2 separate regions of the Homo sapiens genome follow, and region 2 is linked to region 1. Evidence: fine-mapped QTL for protein levels in blood plasma. Region 1 holds a variant in brackets. A gene starts in the other region. All regions are shown on their forward strands.

Region 1 (2,912 bases):
TGGCTGGTAAAAATAGGCACCAATCCCACCATGTGTAAGTTCCAGACACAGTTACCTTTAATCCTTTCAGGTGATCTTTCCCTGGCAACCCAGGCAGTTTCTTCACACACATACAATGATCAGTACTCAGCTGAGTACTAGGGGGGGACCAATTGCAGATATCTGGAATTATGTCTCTCTGCATCACTCTCCCTTCCAATGCTCTGTCCCTCAAACTCCAGCTGCCTCAGTCTTCCCACATGTCTAGCTCTGTCTGCTTATTTAAGGGAGTCTGCTAGGCTCTGTTCAGATTCCCCATCCCAGTGCTGGGGCCTGGAAACTCTTTCAGGCAGTGAGTTGGAGCAATCATATGTTTCATCTCAATGTCTTCTTTCAGTGACCAGTGTCCTTTGTTGCCTTATGTCCCATGTCTTAAAAAATTTAATTCCACATTCTTGTCAATTTTTGGAGTTATTTTAAGTGGGAAGGTAAATCTGGTCTCTGCTATCTAATCTTGGCCAGCAGTTGGAGTCTCTGAGGAGTGTTTTAAAACATGGACTTTCTTCATTAGCCTTGTCACCAAACCTGAAGACTAAGTTACATGTAGCTCCTAAGTAGACCTTTTCTTCTCTCAACATAGTAATCCATTAATTTTTTACTTTTATCACTTGACATCTATGATTATTCTGATATTTTCCTGTCTTTATTAAATCAATTTGCTCTTTAGCAGGGGGCCAGTTGAGTGGATTCTACCTTTAATTGAAAAGATATTATTGTGGCCATTTTGAGAAGAAAAAAATTACTCTCTTTTTTGGAAGAACATCAATGTTTCACTTCCATTTAATATGTGGGATTGAAAATCTATTCAGTGTACTGTCCTGAGTTGAAAGAGTTCACCTGTCACTAGAGAGTGGGAAATTATCCACTGGTTTAACTGAGCTCCCAGTTTTTCTCACTTTGTCTTTCTTGAATATTTCCCTCCATTTCTGAGAAGATAAAATATTATTTTATCATACATTTGTTGTGACAGAATGACATAAAAGAAAAAGCATCAGAGTGGGACTCAGGAGAGCTGATTCCTATACCCAGTTTTGCCCATAATTAACCATTTAACCTTGGGCAAGCTAACAAACTTCTCTAAGTCTCACATTCTTAATCTGTAAAATAAGGTTGACCACTAATTTCTAACATTCTAGGACATATCAATGACTTTTGGGACCTATGGTTCAGAGTACAGATTTTTAAGAACACATACAAAAGAATAAGTCTTTTGACACACCATGAAGGTGAA[C/T]TAATTCCTTGGATGAAGATGAATTAATTCCTTGGACGATGTGAAGATACCCACATGGTCAGCACCCTACTCAAGAGGCAAACAGGAAATTTGCCTCTTTCCAGGCAGTTTTTACTCCATTTCTCTTGAACTTTATACAAATGTAATCATACAGTGCATTTGCTTTTGGGCCTGGCTTTGTTCACTGAATGCAATCCTGCTGTTGTATGTATTAATAGTGCTTTCTTTTAAAAATTGCTGTTAGTGTTCCTTTGTGTGAACATACAATGATCTATTTACCTATTTACCAGTCTATCAGCTTTTGGGTTGTTTCTAGCTTTTGGCTATCATGGTTATGAACATTCTTTTGTGTATCTTTTGGTGGACATATGTACTCATTTCTCTTGGGTAAATACTCAGGGATGCAATTGCCAGGTCATAGGGAAGGTTCACGTTTGGCTTTAGTAAATGCTGGCCTGGGCCTGATTTGAGGTTTTAAGTAGCTTTGGCATTCTCATTTTCCAAGAAAAGAATCACTTTGAAGGAATCACAGAAGCAGAGGGTTAGAAAGTAAGACCTAAAGAAGAGAAGGACAGAGTGATTCTGTTTAGGCTTAATGTATGCTTGCTTGTTAGATGATGACAGGTGAGAGGTCTAGGTCAGATGGGTAGGAGGGATCGAACTTGTGGAAAGCATAGGCTTGGATCCCCAGAGAGAGCCCGGGACATAAGCAGGGGCTGTGGCAGTGCTGAGTGCATCTGAGAAGTCCTTGTATAAGTTGAGGGGTGTGACTGTGCGAGGACAGAGATGTGGGTGGATGCAGGGGATAGCCACACAGGCCCTGTTTAGTCTCCCAGGAGGAGAGTGATATGGTTTGGTTGTGTCCCCACCCAAATCTCATCTTGAATTGTAGCTCCCATAATTCCCACATGTTGTGGGAGGGACCCAGTGGAAGATAATTGAATCATGGGGCAGTTTTCCCCATACTATTCTCATGGTAGTGAATAAGTCTCACAAGATCTGATGGTTTTATAAGGGGTTTCCTCTTTCACTTGGCTCTCATTTTCTCTTGCCTGCCGCCACATAAGATGTGCTTTTGCCTTCTGCCATGATTGTGAGGCCTCCCATGCCATGTGCAATTGGCCACATGCGTCCATTAAACCTCTTTTTCTTTATAAATTACCCAGTCTCAAGTATGTCTTTATAAGCAGTGTGAAAATGGACTAACACAGAAAGATATGGGGAATGGAGTTCAAGTCAGAAACTGGAGCCACATTTCAGGGTCCACAGCCGGGAGGCTGCCTCACACAGAACAGCTGGCTGCTCTGAGTTCTGCCTTGGTTTTCTATGGGGTATAGAAGTTAGGCAGCTTTAATATGCAAAGGTGCAGGGTCTGTCCATCAGTATTTTTTGAAAGCCAAGGATGCTTAAAAGAAGAGGAAGAGAGATCACAGCACTCTCCACTAGCTGAGAACAGTGTGAAGGCAGCCATGTGCAAGCCAGGAAGAGAGCTCTCACCAAAACCTGACCATACTGGCAACCTCATTTCGGACTTGTAGCCTCCAGAGCTGTGAGATAACTTCTGTGGTTTAAGCCACGTAGTCTGTGGTACTTTGTTACAGCACTGCCAATGAACATAGTCAGGGCTGAGAACTGCTGAGAT
Region 2 (2,912 bases), not on the chromosome of region 1:
TAAAGCCTTGGGCCATATCGAGTAAGGTCAGGAAGAGGGCGCAGATGGGAAGCAGGTGGGCTGCCATGGCACGGGACTGGTCGAGGACAACCTGGCCAGGGGAGGCAGAGCTGAGAACAGGTTGCAAAGTCTCCGATTCCCCCACTGCTCAGGGCTGGGGGGCTGAGCCCTTGCGCATTAATCCACCGCTGCTCTGGTTTCTGTTAAACATTGACCTGCAGGGCTCCAGGAGGGCAGGGGAGACGCATGGAGGGGAGCATGGCCACTGGAGGGCACATCCGAGTTGCCTCTCAGACCAGGCCTCTGCCATCTCCCACAGGACTTGCTCTAGCCTAAGCTCGCCCACCCCTGCTTCCCCATGAGCCACTGAGGCCATGACATATGTTCTGGGAAGAGTGGCTGACAGCCAGGCCCTCAGCCCCCAGGCTGACCCGACCAAGGGGGGGAGGCCTTCCTGTCTCTTCCACCAGAAATCCTGGCAGCCACTGGAGGAAGATCCAATGGCCTCAGTGACCAAGGACAGGTCAACCCAGCCCTCCTGTACACCCGCCAGTCTGCCCGCTCGTCCCTGCTGACCTTGGGGCTGAAGGGCCTTATCCTCCAAATTTCCTGACCCCAGGATGGGGGCCTAAGCAGGGCCTGGCCAGATTCCACCCCAGCTGCACCAGAGACTCCTGGAGGAAGGAGCCGCTGCTGGAAATTCTGAGCTTTTGTAGGGGGTCACCCCACCCAGGCCAGGGGCGGGCCAAGGGGCGGGCCTTGGATTAGGAGGCCAGGCCAGCCAGGCATCAGGGCTACCTCTGAATCCCTGGCAAAGGGATCTTGGTTGGGGGTGGGGCTGGGCCAACAGTGGCCCCTCCCACGCTGTCAGCACTAGGGCAGGGCTTTGTGGCCTTACCTAGGCTGGAGGAGGTGGGCAGGGGCAGACCCTGCTGGGCAGGCCTGTTTGTGACACTGGAGACCGGGTTCTTTCGTGTCTTGTGCTCAGGGAGTGTTCTTTGTCCACGTGGCTGCATCTGACATTGATGGGCCCTAGGCACTTTACTTTCGTGGATCTTTTCCTCCTTAAAAAAAATATTTTAAAATATGGCCAGGCATGCCAGGTGCGGAGGCTCACGCCTATAATCCTAGCACTTTGGGAAGCCGAGGTGGCAGATCACGAGGTCAGGAGATCGAGACCATCCCGGCTAACATGGTGAAACCCCTTCTCTACTAAAAATACAAAAAATTAGCCGGGCGTGGTGGCAGGCGCCTGTAATCCCAGCTACTCGGGAGGCTGAGGCAGGACAATCCCTTGAACCCGGGAGGCAGAGGTTGCAGTGAGCCAAGACTGCTCCACTGTGCTACTATACTCCAGCCTGGGTGACAGAGAGCGACTCCATCTCAAAAAAAAAAAAAAAAAAAAAAATATATATATATATATATATATATATATATATATATATATATGGCTATAGTCTTAGCACTTTGGGAGGCTGAGGTGGGAGAATTGCTTGAGCCCAGGAGTTCGAGACCAGCCTAGGCAATGTAGCAAGACCCCATCTCTACAAAAAAATTAAAAATTAGCTGGGCATGGTGGTATGTACCTGTAGTCCCAGCTACTTGGGACACTGAGGCAGGAGGAGTGCTTGAGCCCAGGAGGTCATGTCTGGGTTACACTATTATATATTAATTATTAATATATTTACATTTATATTCTTCTTCTGATTAAAAAAACATTTTGTGGGCCCCTGAAAGTACTGTGGCCCTAGGCCTTGGGTCTATTGTGCTTAGTGGATAAGTCATCCCTGTTGTAGGGACCTGTTTCTGAAAGGCACTGTGTTCATGAAGTCAGGGCTGTGTCATCACCCTTTGTATATGTGCTGGGTTAGTGACTGTGTCTTTGTGAAGCCCCATTTAGTGACCATCTGAGCCTCTGCACAAATTCCAGTGGCAAGTAGGTGTGAGTGTGGAACCCAGTGCCTGGGACTGGGTGTGTGTGAGCCCTGCTGTCTTGTGAGCATGAGATCCTGTGTTTGTGTGACCATGCATATGAGCTGTCAGTGAGCACATGCTTGTTCATTCATTTGTGGTTTCACTTGTTCAATATGTGAAAGGAAAATATCTTGGGCCCCTTCAAGCTGGGAACCGCTCAGGACAAATCTGCCTCCCATTCTATTCAAGTCATCCTTTTGCTTACAGACATAGATGCATATTATGATTGCCTCCATTGCCTCTTTTGGAAAGACTACCAGAAACTCAAAAGAATGCAACCATCTGTCTGTCACCTGCCTGTGACCTGGAAGCCCCCAGTGGGGGGCCGTGCTTTGAGCTGTCTCCACCTCTCTGGACAGAGCTTATGTACTTCTGTTTTTTTTTTATTTTTATTTTTTGAGACGGAGTCTCGCTCTGTCGCCCAGGCTGGAGTGCAGTGGTGCGATCTCAGCTCACTGCAAGCTCTGCCCCCCGGGTTCATGCCATTCTCCTGCCTCAGCCTCCCGAGTAGCTGGGACTACAGGCGCCCGCCACCACGCCTGGCTAATTTTTTGTATTTTTAGTAGAGACGAGGTTTCACCGTGTTAGCCAGGATGGTCTCGATCTCCTGACCTTGTGATCTGCCTGCCTCAGCTTCCCAAAGTGCTGGGATTACAGGTGTGAGCCACCGCGCCTGGCCTAATTTTTTTTTAGATGAAGTCTCACTCTGTCGCCCAGGCTGGAGTGCAATGGCATGATCTCGGCTCACTGCAACCTCTGGCTCCCGGGTTCAAGCGATTCTCCTGCCTCAGCCTCCAGAGTAGCTGGGACTACAGGCGCGTGCCACCACACCCAGCTAATTTTTATATGTTTAGTAGAGACAGGGTTTCACCATATTGGCCAGGCTGGTCTTGAACTCCTGACCTTGTGATCTGCCCACCTTGGCCTCCCAAAGTGCT

Direction of the effects. Alleles are on the strand shown, and positions count from the first base shown. The strength of an association depends on the size of the effect and on how common the allele is.
In carriers of allele T in region 1, the plasma level of the protein whose gene starts at base 685 in region 2 tends to be lower than with C alone (weak association).

What was found. PIP is the posterior inclusion probability: the model's chance that the variant is causal. The UK Biobank Pharma Proteomics Project read protein levels with antibody pairs (Olink). The fine-mapping took linkage between variants from a reference panel, not from the people measured, so its PIPs are less certain.
Region 2: it holds the start of HYAL1, and the variant in region 1 is fine-mapped to the plasma level of the HYAL1 protein (UK Biobank, PIP 0.99).

The regions. Positions count from the first base shown.
Region 1 is chr12:58,157,259-58,160,170 of GRCh38, forward strand. No RefSeq gene overlaps it. Among named protein-coding and RNA genes, the nearest start is that of LINC02403, 71 kb to the left of the region's middle. The variant C/T (reference allele first, on the strand shown) is at 1,271.
Region 2 is chr3:50,302,890-50,305,801 of GRCh38, forward strand. HYAL1 (hyaluronidase 1) reads right to left here and starts at 685. Exons shown (of 4, transcript NM_033159.4): 1 at 577-685; 2 at 1-91. The coding sequence starts at 67. RefSeq lists enhancers at 169-1,103, 921-1,090.